2 linked regions of the Homo sapiens genome follow. The protein of the gene in region 1 interacts with the protein of each later gene in a biochemical or structural test. Each region holds a gene or a part of one and is shown on either strand. Other genes may lie near its edges.

What was found. Proteins that work in one complex are often made in the same cells at the same time.
Region 2: the proteins of MTR (region 1) and MTRR are reported together in a solved structure, tested with the Homo sapiens proteins (one study listed by BioGRID).

Annotation. Positions count from the first base shown.
Region 1 is NC_000001.11:236,790,954-236,798,297, forward strand, and holds the start of MTR (methionine synthase), read left to right. Parts: upstream 1-4,338; 5' UTR 4,339-4,367; coding exon of another isoform or gene 4,368-4,750; coding exon 4,751-4,784; intron 4,785-7,344. UniProt on the Homo sapiens protein: Catalyzes the transfer of a methyl group from methylcob(III)alamin (MeCbl) to homocysteine, yielding enzyme-bound cob(I)alamin and methionine in the cytosol. MeCbl is an active form of cobalamin (vitamin B12) used as a cofactor for methionine biosynthesis.
Region 2 is NC_000005.10:7,879,116-7,886,152, reverse strand, and holds part of MTRR (methionine synthase reductase), read right to left. Parts: intron 2,999-7,037; coding exon 2,876-2,998; intron 2,430-2,875; coding exon of another isoform or gene 2,290-2,429; intron 453-2,289; coding exon 299-452; intron 1-298. UniProt on the Homo sapiens protein: Key enzyme in methionine and folate homeostasis responsible for the reactivation of methionine synthase (MTR/MS) activity by catalyzing the reductive methylation of MTR-bound cob(II)alamin.

The sequences.
Region 1 (7,344 bases):
AACATGGTGAAACCCCATCTCTACTAAAAATACAAAAATTAGCTGGGCATGGTGGCACATGCCTGTTTAATCCCAGCTACTAGGGAGGCTGAGGCAGGAGAATCACTTGAACCAGGGAGTCGGAGGTTGCAGTGAGCGGAGATCACGCCACTGCACTCCAGCCTGGCGACAGAGCAAGACTCCATCTAAAAAAAAAAAAGTAACCTAAAAGACTGGTTCAGACCATGAACAAAAGTGAGGGTCTGGGCCATGCCTCATTATACCTCTCCGGCATTAACATCAACACAGACCTTAAGTCTGATAAGAGGCATTTACAATCTATTCTCTCCGTAGCCTGCTACCTGAAGGCTTCCTCTGCACAATAAGAACTTTGGTCTTCACAATCCTTTAACCCAGACATTTGCTTTCTATTGATCCCAGGTCTTTAGATAAACTCAACCAATTGTCAACCAGAAAATTTTTAAATCTGCATATAACCTGGAGGGCCCCCCACCCCCACCCTGTGCCTGGCTTCAAGTTGTTCCGTGTTTCTGAACTGAACCAATGTATTTCTTAAATTGTGAACCGAACCAATGTACTTCTTAAATGTATTTGATTGAAGTCTCATGTCTCCCTAAAATGTACAAAACTAAGCTGCACCTCAACCACCTTGGGCACCTGTTCTCAGGACCTCCTGAGGGCTGTGTCATGGGCCATGGTCACTCATATTTGGCTCTTAATGAATCTCTTCAAATATTTTACAGAGTTTGACTCTTTTTGTCAACAACACTATGAAGGGATTTGAGGGAAGGAAATAGCGGGGCTCACCTTTGTGACAGGGATCTTCTGGGGGAAAACCCATGGTCACCCCAGTAGACTCCAGAAGTAGTACATCCTTGTTCCAGATCTGGCCCATAGTTTATATTTGCAAGACTCTTGACTAGCAGGACACAAAGAGCCACCTAATGGGTTTGACACAACCACCAAGACCAGAGAATAATGCATAAAGCTGGAATGTCAATTTGCTACTGCTATACAGTAGGAGTTGGATATTTAGGTTCACTGATCTCCACTTCTATCTATGAAGACAAATCCACAGGGAAAGAAGTCCCAAATCACCAAGAGGTTGTTTGGACCCTAACCTCTAAACAATGGGTTTGTGTTGGATGAGTTTAATGAGAATGAGCTTAATGAGGGGGAAAAAAGCAGGCTAGCAGGCTATCACCAACTTAAAATAGCAGGTTCTCTCCTACAGAGATAGAGACCCTCGTTAGTCCCAGCCCATCCACAGATATAGTTGTATTAGTTTCCAAGGATTGCTTTAGAGTTTCCGAGGAAGTACAAAAACTGAGTGGCTTAAAACAACAGAAATTTATTACCTGACAGTTCTGGAAGCAAGAGGTCCCAAATTGAGGTGTAGGCAGAGTAATGCTTTTTCTGAAACCTACAAGGGAGAACCCTTTCTTGTCTCTTCTAGATTTGGATGTCTGCTGGCAATCCTTGGAGTTCCCTGGTTTGCAGGTGCTTCCCTCCAGTCTCCACCTTTGTTGGCAAGTGGCTCTTTTCTCCTCGTGTATCTCCCCTTCTCATAAGGACACCAGCTACGCTGGATGATGATCTCATAACTAAACTAACCTGCAACAAACCTATTTCCAAATAGGGTCATTAAGGTCATATTCTTTTTTTTTTTTTTTTTTTTTTTGAGTCTGAGTATCTCTCTGTTGCCCAGGCTGGAGTGTAGTGGCTCAATCTCCACTCACTGCAACCTTCACCCTGCCAGGTTCAAGCGATTCTCCCACCTCTGCCTCCAGTAGCTGGGATTACAGGCATGTGCCACCACACTCGGCTAATTTTTGTGTTTTTCTTTTTCTTTTCTTTTTTTCTTTCTTTTTTTTTGAGACGGAGTTTCACTCTTGTTGCCCAGGCTGGAGTGCAATGGCACAATCTCGGTTCACTGCAACCTCCCCCTCCCGGGTTCAAGTGATTCTCCTGCCTCGGCCTCTCGAATAGCTGGGATTACAGGCATGCACCACCACACCCGGCTAATTTTGTATTTTTAGTAGAGACGGCGTTTCTCCATGTTGGGCAGGCTGGTCTCGAACACCCGACCTCAGGTGATCCGCCCACCTCAGCCTCCCAAAGTGCTGGGATTACAGATGTGAGCCACCACGCCTGGTTAATTTTTGTATTTTTAGCAGAGATGGGGTTTCACCATATTGCCCAGGCTGGTCTCGAACTCCTGGCCTCAAGCGATCCACCAGTCTCGGCCTCCCAAAGTGCTGGGATTGCGGGTGTGAGCCACTGCACCCGGCCCAAATAGGGTCATATTCTGAAGCACTGGAAGTTAGGGCTTCAACATATCTTTGAGGGGGACACATTGCAACCCATACAGTATTCTTGGAACTGTAAATCGCGTTTTTGTACTAGAAATTCACTGCCCCTTTAGGCACTATGTATTCCTCTAATCTTATTTGTTACTCTTTTACGACTTTAAGAAATACAGAATTTGGTCAGTTTTAGCTGAGAGAGTAAACTTTGATGACTTGCATCAAACAGGGACTGGCACACAACTCCTGGAATTTCCAGTAAGAGAATGTGAATGGGGGACAGTTGCCGACTAGGTGCCTGAAAGATCATTTTTCAAGAAACACGTCAACAAACTTTGAGGGATACATGATAATTAAAAAACTAGCTTCAACCCGGGAGGCGGAGGTTGCAGTGAGCTGAGCCAAGATCGTGCCAGTGCGCTCCAGACTGTGCGACAGAGTGAGACTCCGTCTCAAACAAACAAACAACTAGCCCTTATAATCTTTTTTTTTTTTTTTTAGACAGGTGCATCTTTACACAGTTAAATTTCACTACTTCTTTTTTTGCAGATAAAAACTCAGGAGTTGAGAAATGAATAAACATAATAATAAATATGAGAAAACCATCATGATTTATCAAGCCTGGATAAATAATTTAATAAGTTCAGCATAGAAGACCTTGCTTTTTTTTCTTTCCTCCTTTTCTTCTTCTTTTTTTTTAACTTATTTATTTCAATAGGTTTTTGGGGAGCAGGTGGTGTTTGGTTACATGAATAAGTTCTTTAGTGGTGATTTGAGAGTTTGGTGCACCCATCACCTAGGCAGTGGACACTGCACCCAATGTGTAGTCGTTTATCCCTCACCTACTCTCACCCTAGCCCTTATAATCTTAAGATTTTTGGCTATTTAGGGCCATCTCATTCCTCCCTCCCTTCTTTGTTGCATTCTCTCTCACCTACTCCATTCCCCCCACCTTCCAAGTAAGACCATCTTTGGTAAGATGGTCTTGGTAAGAATGTGATACGCATTATAATAATTTTTCAAATCTTCAAAATTGAGGTATAATTACATACAATAAAATGAGAATGGCATGCAAATTTGTGCCTTTTTTAAAGCTTAGTAAATGTCATAATTTGGTTATAGTTTTTATTTTTCTGGATGCATTTGCTTTTCCTTACATCTACCATGCTCAGCCTTACAGAGATTTTTCTAGATGAATTTGCTTTTTCTCACATCTACCATGCTCGGCCTTACAGAGCTGCCCTTTATTTTAGAATTCCCTAAAGTGCTGTGTTGTACACAGGGAGCTTCTCCTGACTGGAACAACCTTACCTGGTACCACTCTTCCTTCAGGACCCAGATTCTTCTTTGAAACCTTTCCCTGGCCCCTTTGAATACTCTAGCTCTTTTAAAATGTATGTGGTTCTTTTTTCCCTGTTCAATTATTAATCTAACTAGGTTGTGAGTTCCTCCTCCAAGGACGTGAGGGTGCGATGTAGCTTGTCTGATTTTGCATTCCAAGTGTGTGCCCCAATGCCTGACACATAGTAGGTGCTCAATATATGTTTACTGTCAATAAGTTACAATTAACACCCCCATATGGTAATTCAGAGTTTTCATAGCGCGGTCAAACGATCTCATTTAACGCCTACTACAACCCTAAAAAATTCTAATTACTACCATCCTATCATTCTTGTTTGTAGAGTGTGGAGACTGAGAGGTTAACTGTCTTGCCCAGCGCAAGTCAACAGCAAAACGGAACTAAAATTTCAGGCTCGACACCACACAGCGTGTCGAGATCAGCACGAACTTGGCGCTGTGACTTTTCCTTAGAGGGGCCACTTAGGCTTACACTTCCGGATCCTGGGCACACAGAGACGCGAAAAGCTCCCGCGGGAAACTGGGGAGCGGGACTACATCTCCCAGAGAGCCCCGGGGCTAAACAGCAGGTGATTGGTTGATATTGACAGCCAATGCGGCTGCGAGGAGCTCGGGCAGACCAATCACAGGCCGGAAGGGGCGGGACCTCCCACGCCGAGGATAGATTGAGCGCAGAACTAACCGCGCTCTGAAAGGTTCTAAATGTCTGCGGGGCTCAGAGCCGGATGTCACGTCGTCCTCCTCTGCCGGTTTTCTCTTGGGTCCTTTTCCGTGCCGTCCCGCGACTCCGCCTCTGGCCGCGCGTGTCTGGCTGCTAGGCCGACACCAAGGACTGGCCGGGTACCCGGGAAGAAAGCACGTGCTCCAGCAGTTGCCGCGCCCAGCCCCGAGAGAGGCCCTAGGGCGCTGCGGGCTTTCGGGGTCCGCAGTCCCCCCGCGACGCGAGCCAACGGGAGGCGTCAAAAGACCCGGGCCTTGTGTGGCAGGCTCGCCTGGCGCTGGCTGGCGTGGCCCTTGGCCGTCGTCACCTGTGGAGAGCACGTCTTCTCTGCCGCGCCCTCTGCGCAAGGAGGAGACTCGACAACATGTCACCCGCGCTCCAAGACCTGTCGCAACCCGGTAACGCTGCGACCCCGTCTGCGTGGTTGGGTTGTGTTTCTTAACTCGTGCTGTGGCCTCCTAATCCCTGGGGCGATTCCCTTCTGCGGCGGGAGACGCCCGGCGGTGTTTCCCCGCGTGTGGGCGGCACCTTTAGAACTTAGCGCAGGAGCCCGGAGGGCTACGTGTTTTGCTCCACTCTTTGTCCGACCTTCACCTCTTTCTCCCCAGGCAAGCCATCAAAACCTGCAAAAAGCGTCCTCCCCTCGCCCCCGAAACACATTCTTAACGTCACAGTAACTAAACTTTCCAGTTCCACGCAGCATAAACCAGCTGGGCCCTCTGGAAGTTTTTTTTTTTGCATGGTGTGACGCTTATTCGTAAATATGTATTGCGCACCTACTGCGAAAGAAAGTTCAGGCGCGGAGAGACAGACGAGGAAACTCAGAGAACTATTTAAAACTACTACATGGAACTTTTTATTTTCTGCTTCTACGCACGCTGCTGCAAAACTGCAATATGCATAGACTCACTATGTTAAAATAGATGAGCAGACCCCACCTCCAGATACCGAAATGGGAGGTAGTAATTTCAAGCGATTCTGATGTTGGTGGCCCTGGGATCAACAGTGAGAAAAAGCTAGTTTAGCACGAGAACTGAACGTAATGTTAGCTTTATAACGAGCTCTAGATCTCTAAGGTCATGCCTGATTATAATTTGAGGACAAATACACCCGTAAAAACGGGTGAGGAGATGTAGAAACGAGAATTAGTGATAAGTACAAAACAGTAAATATCCTATCACATAGTGGGGATGTTTAGCTTCAGGAAGAGGGGGAATACTAAATTCGTAACGCACAAGGAAATTTATCAGAGGTTAACCGGTGACTCTCTTGATTCTTGGGTTCTGATAACGGGACTGATATAATTGTTCTTGAAACTAGTGGAACTGTGGCTGAGAAACACATCACTGCTGTTATTAAATAAGATATAAACCTCCCTATGAGAGGTTTATATGTTATTTAATATATTAAATAAGATGTAATGAGGTTACATCTTATTTATATTTAATATTTAATTAATAAATGTAAACCTCCCTATAAGAGATTTATATCTTATTGAATAAATGATCATAGGGAGATCATATTTATTTGGAAAACATCTTTTACTCATGATTTCTGGCCTCCCCCTTCCCATTTAATTTAAACAAGTAAAGTTATTTCCCTTTCATCTGAATTTAGGTGTCATTATCAGGAGCAAAATGCCACTGAAGACTTAAAATACTGTGAATAGTGAGTGATTTAAAAAAAAAAAATAAACTGAAAGGAAAATTGTTGAATGTTTGAATCTTGCCTAGTCCCCTCACCCCCAAGGCTGGCTTCTAGAGTTGAGCACTGAGTGGAGTTTAACCAAGTCTAGGGCCTCTGAAGTTCTGAATCAGGCCATTGTGCCTAGAAAAGACCTTAGATGTAGTCCAGCTTCTGTCTATGTGAGCAACTTTTATTGGGATTAGAATCAGGTTTTAACTTCCTAATAACCCTTAGTAATTTACTGGCGTACAATCTTAATGAAATTTTAATGGAGAGCTGGGAATTCCTGATTCTCAAGGTTGGGCCTTAAAACTAAATGTGACTTCAGACCATGGTTGTGTGCCCTGGGGAAGGAGGATGGTGGGCTAGCAAATACATCTTGGGAGAAAATTTTAACTACAGCTTCTAAAAGTTTCTTGGTTTCATCCTTGCTTAGGACTGTGAGTGTTATTTGGAACTCAATTGATGAGTGATTAATGAAGGAATGAATAATCCAGTGAATTGGTATCAATTGATGAGTGATTAATGAAGGAATGAATAATCCAGTGAATTGGTATCAGCCTAATTCTTCTCCGGCTTATTAAAATCAAAGGGGGAAATAATATATATTAAAAATGGAATACTGCACAAGCAAAGAGATGCCCCCAAAGAAGCTGGGCGCGGTGGCTCATATCTGTAATCCCAGCACTTTGGGAGGCCGAGGCGTGCGGGTCACCTGAGGTCAGGAGTTCGAGACCAGCCTGGCCAACATGGTGAAACCCCATCTGTACTAAAAATACAAAAATTAGCTGGGTTTATAGTGAGCGCCTATAACCCCAGCTACTCAGGAGGCTGAGGCAGGAGAATCGCTTGAACCCTGGAGGCTGAGGTTGCAGTGAGCCGAGATCATGCCACTGCACTCCATCCTGGGTGAGAGAGTGAGACTTAGTCTCCAAAAAAAAACAAAACAAAACAAAACAAAACCAAAAAAACAAAGTGTAGCAAGTCTGTGCAAACTAGAAATTAGAGATCCAAAAATGAAAGAGAGAAGTATCTTGCAAGTGACTTGTAGGGCAGTAGTAAGATTGTTTTTAATAAAGCAAAGAAAGAACAGTGCTGAGAAAGCCTTGGGATCATTTGATTATAATGCAGAAAATAAAAATGTGCTTTTGCTGTATGTGTTCCCCATTTAGCACAGTGGAAAGAGGGGTCCTAAGTAAGTCAGATCTATTTGGGGTCATTTTACCTTCAGAGCAGATGTGTTCTTGACACTGCAATTTATAACTTACATGC
Region 2 (7,037 bases), on another chromosome or scaffold:
TTTTTAAAAATAACCTAGGCCAATGCTTCTCAAAAACTACATTTACACTCAGTTTTCATGTCCACAAATGTCCAATAATTAGAACATCCATTATCTTCTTATTCAGTGCAATTAACATGAAAGTTAAGAAACTACCAATACCAGCGTATGCCTGTGTTCCCAGACCTTGATGCGCAGCTGAGCCCCAGGCATCTGTGCGGCCAACACACAGGACCCTGAACCTTAGAGCCACACTCTCACCATCAGCTCCAGTCCACTGGCCCACAACACCCCAACGTCACAGCATCAGGGCTGTTACCTTTCTTCTTTGTGTCTGCCTTTATTTTCAAAAGGACGCAGTGCTCTCTTTTATCTTCAAGCTGCAGTCTTTGGAGTAGGCTTTGTACCTCAGAATCACTGTTAGGGCAGATCACGCTGAAGGCATCTCCAGGCTGATAGGAAAAGTCTGTATTCTAGAGAAGAGCCAAAATGAAAAAAAAAAAATACATTATACGTGTTACATAGTTTAAGCTGTAGGGTAACAAAAATATAGTTTTCAATATTATGATTTTAATATGTGAACTCAGAAAATAGAATTTCAAAAAAAAAAACACACAATTGTTTTAAAAAATAAGCCCAACTAACCAAATAAACATACTTTCATTATTAGCAGTTACTATTAAAACGAAATCTGGTAGTTACCCAGTGTTTTGCCTTTTATCATACTTAAAGAATGGAAGTCAGACCTTCCTTGTTCTCTACAAAGTAAGGTCCTATGGTGTTTTCAATAACCCATGTAAATATAAAAATCCCTCTTACAAAAACATACATGCACACACACACGAAAACATACATTATGACCAAAAGAAACTAATTATGGTCAAATGCATTGGTTTTCAATTTTCTTCTCCTTACTTTACTCTTTTCCTTTAGGGGACAGGAAAGGGTACTTTATTTCCTTAAGTATAAAACATTACACTATCTGGCTCGATACTGGTTGTGAGCAAACATGGGCTGAAAAAGTCACCACTTCCCAAGTCAAGTCTATTACTAGGCCCATTGCCTCTAAGCCCCAGAGTGATACAGATGCAGGCCAGGGCTCTGGGGAGGAGCCTCTCACAATGACACAAGCTCACATTTCTTGCCAGCAAGGGAGAGAGACTGGACTAAGCACAGACCAACCCTTGCCTCTTTATGACAAAAATGTAAAATACCAGAATAAAAAATATTTTGGTGTACATAGTATTAATATTTATGGATGCAAAACCATCTAGTTTTGACACATTGTATTTTTTTCTGTTAGGAAGTTTGATTAAATCTACACCAACAGCCTTAATGTGCCCTTGCTTTTCTGAAAGAATAACCCACTTAACCTCTCAAGACTTTCATAAAATAAACGGTTGAGCTAAATGACTTTGAAGAGGTACTCAAACACTTATTTTAGGATTATCAGTCAGTTTCTTAACCTAAGGTCAATGGATTCCAGCAGGGTGTGGAGGGTAGGAAGGGGGCCCATGGAGGGGGTGCATCGAGGCACATCTCAGACTAAAACTGTACGTAAATGTTTCTATATACAGTTGGCCCTCCATATCCTCAGGTTCTCCACCCTCAGAATCAACCAAACCTGAATGGAAAATATTTGGGACGGAAAAAAACAATAAAAAATAACAATAAAAATAATGTAAACTTAAAAATACAGTATAGCAACTACTTACGTGGTGTTAGATACTGTAAGTAATCTACAGATGACTTAAAGTGTAGGGGAGGATGTGCATAGATTATATACAAATACTGTAACATTTTACATAAGGGACTTGAGCTTTGAGGATTTGGGTATCTGAAAGGGGTCCTGGGACAAATCCTTCGAAGATACTAAGGGACAAGTGTAATCATTTTTTGGGAGAGTCCATAATTTTTTCCAGATTCTCAAGAAATCAAAACCACTGCTCTGAGGAATTAACCCTAACCTGCCTGTCTGGGTTCTATTTCTTTTCTTTTTTTAAAAAAATTGAGGCAGGGTCTCACTCTGTCACCCAGGCTGGAGTGCAGTGGCACAATTACAGCCCACTGTAGTCTCAACCTCCCAGGCTCAAGCAGTCCTCCCACCTCAGCCTCCCAAGTAGCTGGGACCATCGGTACACACCACCATGCCCAGCTACTTATTGTATTTTTTTGTAGAGACAAGGTCTTGCCATGTTACCCAGGAACTCCTGGGTTCAAGTGACCGCCTTCAGCCTCCCAAAGTGCTGGGATTATAGGCGAGAGCCACCTCGTTTGACCTTAGGCTCTATTTCTAACTTCCTGGCTGACCTTAGTGGACAGCTTCCTTTCCTGGGCCTCTTATATATAAAATGCTGTTCTGATCCCATTATTCTTTCATGGCTTATTGAGTAAGCCAGCATCTTCCTCTCAGGCTGAATCTCCTCCAGCCATTCTTCCCTAGTCCTTCCCTGAAGTGGAAAGAAAATAGGTGTGAAAATAGAAGAGAGAAAAAAATGATGGGTCAGGAATAAAATGGCAAGATGTCCTGTCAGAGACCTCTCATTCTTCTGAGCATGTATAACCAAGCACCACACAACTCAGCATACATAACCAAGCACCACACAACTCAGCATATGTAACCAAGCACCACACAACTCAGCATATGTAACCAAGCACCACACAACTCAGCATATGTAACCAAGCACCACACAACTCAGCATATGTAACCAAGCACCACACAACTCAGCATATGTAACCAAGCACCACACAACTCAGCACATGTAACCAAGCCGCACACAACTCAGCATATGTAACCAAGCAGCACACCACTCAGCATATATAACCAAGCACCACACAACTCTTTCTGCACATCCTGACAATATTACTGTGCTGAGAAATAAATTTTGCAACTTACTGAAATGTCCAATTCTACCAGCAGAGTGGTTTTTATGGCATCATTCGTAGTAAGTTGAACTGCCTTTGAAATTGGCACTTGAAAAACTGGATCTGCTGAAGTCACAGATACTTGGCTTTCCTCCTTGAAAAACAAATGTGACAAAACGTAAGTGCAATTTTCAATTATACCCTTCTTTCAATTAGTGACTACGCAAGATCCACAGGGGCTTACAAAACTTCCTGGCTACTCAGTATTCATTTCCAAGGTAAATGAATGAGGGCAGATATATGGAGCTAGCTTTTCAGAAGAGAAGCTCAATTCTATCTCAAACGCTTTATCTATTAGACATTAGAATTTCTGAAATACAAATAGAAAATAAAAATACTGGCATGTTCATGTAAAGATCTAGTAGTTTTCCTAATAAACTACGTCAAGGGAAACAGAATGTCTGCAAATGTTTCAGGAAGGAGAGATCTTGAAGAATGTGACAGATGTTTAAGAATGCAACATGTGTGTAGATGGTCACAGGAACCCCCTAGTGTGGGGCAATGCTGTTCATATGGCTGCTGAAATATGGCTGGTGAAATACAGGTAGTGTCACTAAGAAACTAATTATTAATCTTAACAAATGTTCATTAATTTAAATTTGAGTAGCTATATGTGGCCAGCAGCTCCTGTACTGGACACAGTAGGTCTTGGAAAACTGCAAAAAATCCCAGTTCTTTATAATACTCCCTACTCCTTTTCTATATTCCTAAGTTTAAAAACAAAATATTTTAACAGTACTAGTCAATTAACTGTGGATAAGTGGCTATATGGGAAAGCTGGGATGAAGGTCAGTTCTGGGTGTCTGGGAGCCATAATGTGGGGGTACTGAGATGTACCCCTAAGAAGACTGCCTTCTGCAAAGGCTATGGCAGTGCTGACAATGACTACCTCTGCCACCTGAAAGAAACACTTCAGCATTCTTAGGTCACACCTTACCCCTGCCCACACCTCCTTTCAGAGGCAACCCACATCCAATGTCTCATCAAAGACTACAAAGGTCCAGCCTCTTCGTTCCAACTCAGGACAACTCTGAAGACCCACCAGCTCCAGAGAACCCTGTGGGATTGGCTGAGGCCTTTGCTGAGACTGCACAGCAGCTCAGCTTCTCACTGTGCCCAATCCTGCTTCCATCCCTCCATGCCCAAAGATGATGCTGTCAAGAGGATGCCCTAAAAACATCTCATTGTTTGACTCCTGGGAACCAGCCTGTGACAGTCAGTGCCAGGGTAGCCTGGGAAAGATGCTAAAATGGAGTCTAGAGCTGGATCATCTGCCTGTTTGACAATGAGAACACCACACCAGTGAGAGAGCAGACAGACGGCACTGGCACACAGCAACAATGCAACCGTAAGTAGCAGGGAGTGCCAGTGGAAGCAAATGCATCACCTTGCAAGATCCATCAGGTGCTTGAGAACTAGAGAGAAACAGCAGAAGAGAAGACTGGTGGGACTTGGGGGGCTACTGCTAAAATTCACTCGCACTTGAAAAAAAATGCAAAAAGCTTAAAGGACAAATCACCAATTAAGAACTAAGTAAAACTAAAATAGAACTAAGCCAGGGGACATCCTCAGGAGCTTAGAAAGACACAGTCATCTCATGCAGCCCATGACAGTGAAGGCAGAGAAAGCCAAGGACTAACTGGGAAAAAAAATCTTGAATACTCAGATTCCCTTAAAAATCTTGACTACCCAGAACGCCTTAAAAATCTTGACTACCCAGATTCCCTTAAAAATCTTCCTACCCAGATTCCCTTGAACTCTTTGAGCCTGCAGATGTGGCCAGTCCCTCCCATGAAGAGTAAGAACTCCCTTCTCGCATCTGGATGGTGTAAGGACCTCTGCCCACAGCACATGCCTGTACCCCCACTACCACACCCCATCCCCTCTTCTGGTTGCTAGACCAATAACTGGGGTTGTTGCGACACACTCGGCCACTAAAGCACTGGGCTAGCTAAGGAAGGTAAGGGACTAACCCCTAAGAAAGTATACGACAGAGCACTATGCCCCCACAGGAGCTAGGAGAGAATGCACACAACACAGCTGAGGTCCTAAATTGAGGAGGGCAGAACACAGATGTAAAAAATGGGCAGCCCACAAAGGCACTGGATCAATCCTTACAATGAAAAGAAATCAAGGAGGCATGTAAAAGGAGCTGTAGGCCGCTGCTCCAATAAAAACGATCCTTTGCCCTGTTTCCAGACCTGCAACCCACTGACTGTAGGAGAGAAGAGGTCCCTAGGAGGAGGGACTGTGAGACACTATAGAAACTGTACTTGACAATGGCTTCTGCAGTCCTTCTCCCAAAGGGGAAATGTACACTGGGCTAAGGGGAATGTGCAAACATTCCAGGGTCTGTTAAGAGGGGGTTCAAATGAATGTTGTTACCCAGGGACCCAAAGCATCAGCATAGCTCATCTATGACAGCAAGGCACATGGGGGCCAGGCGGTAAATGGCGTCCTGGCCCAGGACCTCCAGTGGCCACTCAGCAGCTGGCACAGGGCAACACCGAATTATTGGCCTATGACGTTAAGATCTATCATCATGGGGAGGGCCAAGAAGAAGTCTCTGAATTTGACGCCATCCTCCTCCCTAAACACCAAGATAGAACAAGAGAAACAAAATAGCATCCTGAGAGAAATGACATCCTTAAAAAGCTGGAGGACACAGGGGATGGTCTCTATCGTATCTCCATTTAATTCACCAGTTTGACCACTGCAAAAACCACATAAATCCTGGGGGATGACACTGAACTACTGGAAACTCAAACAAGAAACAGGTCCACTGTAACCTCCGTGCAAGCTGGTTTTCCTTAACAAAGTAGACTAGCATGGCCTCAGGTACACGGACAATGATTTAGTCAAAGTGCTCCTTCCCAACCCTATCACTAAAGAGGATCAGAAACAGTTCACTTTGCGCTGGAACAATGTATAAATTTACAATTATGCCCCAGGGCTATCATAAGTCCTGCCTGCTGTTATAAGAGTCTGAATAAATGTGGAACACCTGCAAAGCACCACACTAGCCTACTCTATCAGGGGCATCGTGCTATCAGACTGAATGAGCAACGAGGAGTAGCCAGGACAGTGCGGTCTTTGGTAAGACCCATGCCCTATGCAATTAAAGGGCCTGCAGTGCCAGCACAATTTTTAGGGTTCTAACAGTTTGGTGCACGTCAGGACATCCCCTCCCAAGTGAAGGCCACACTAGTGCACCTTGTACCTCACTTCTAGAGAGAAGCAGAACCACTGCTAAGTCTCTTCAGGATCTGTGGGTAGCACATTCCATACCTGGGAGGACTGCTGAGACCCAAATACCAGGTGACAGAAAAGGCCACCAGCTTTGCGTGGGGCCCAGAGCAGGAGAGGGCTCTACAGCAGATCCAAGTGACAGTGCTCGTTAACAGGTCCTGCCGCTCTACCACACAACCCAGAAGACCCTCTGGTTATTAGAGGTAATACTTCCACATGGCAGAAAGGTACCATATGGAGAGGAGCTGACTGAGGCCTTTGTTGAGACTGCATCGCAGCTCAGCTTCTCACTGTGCCCAATCCTGCTTCCAACCCCTCTGTGCCTCAAGGCAATGGTCCCAAGAGGATGCCCTACAAAACATTCTTTTTTTCCCAATTCTTTACTCTCTCAGTATATTATTTCATATTTATATTGTCTCTCTTAAGTACTTCAGATTTGTTAAATCTTTTAACTACATTATTAACAACTCAAGCCTATTTAATGACACTTTCTATTAAGAAAAAACCCAGAAACTTTTTTTTTTTTTTTTTTTTTTTGAGACGGAGTCTTACTCTGTCGCTCAGGCTGGAGTGCAGTGGCGCAATCTTGGCTCACTGCAACCTCCGCCTCCCGGAAAAAACCCATAAACTCTTAACAGATCTTCCGGCTAATTTAAAACTCCTAGTCAGATTAATGATTAATCTCTATCCCCGCTGCCATGAACTGATCCTGTCTGTGGTGCAACACTGCACTCTGCTCCCACCAGTCCAGGCATAAGTTGTGTCTGTTCCCAAACCAGACTGAGATACACTTACTGCAATTATCTCACTTAAACAATTCACAAAATAATGAAGTACAAGTGCAAAAACAATAGCCCATAGTTGTTTATACACAAAATCATACT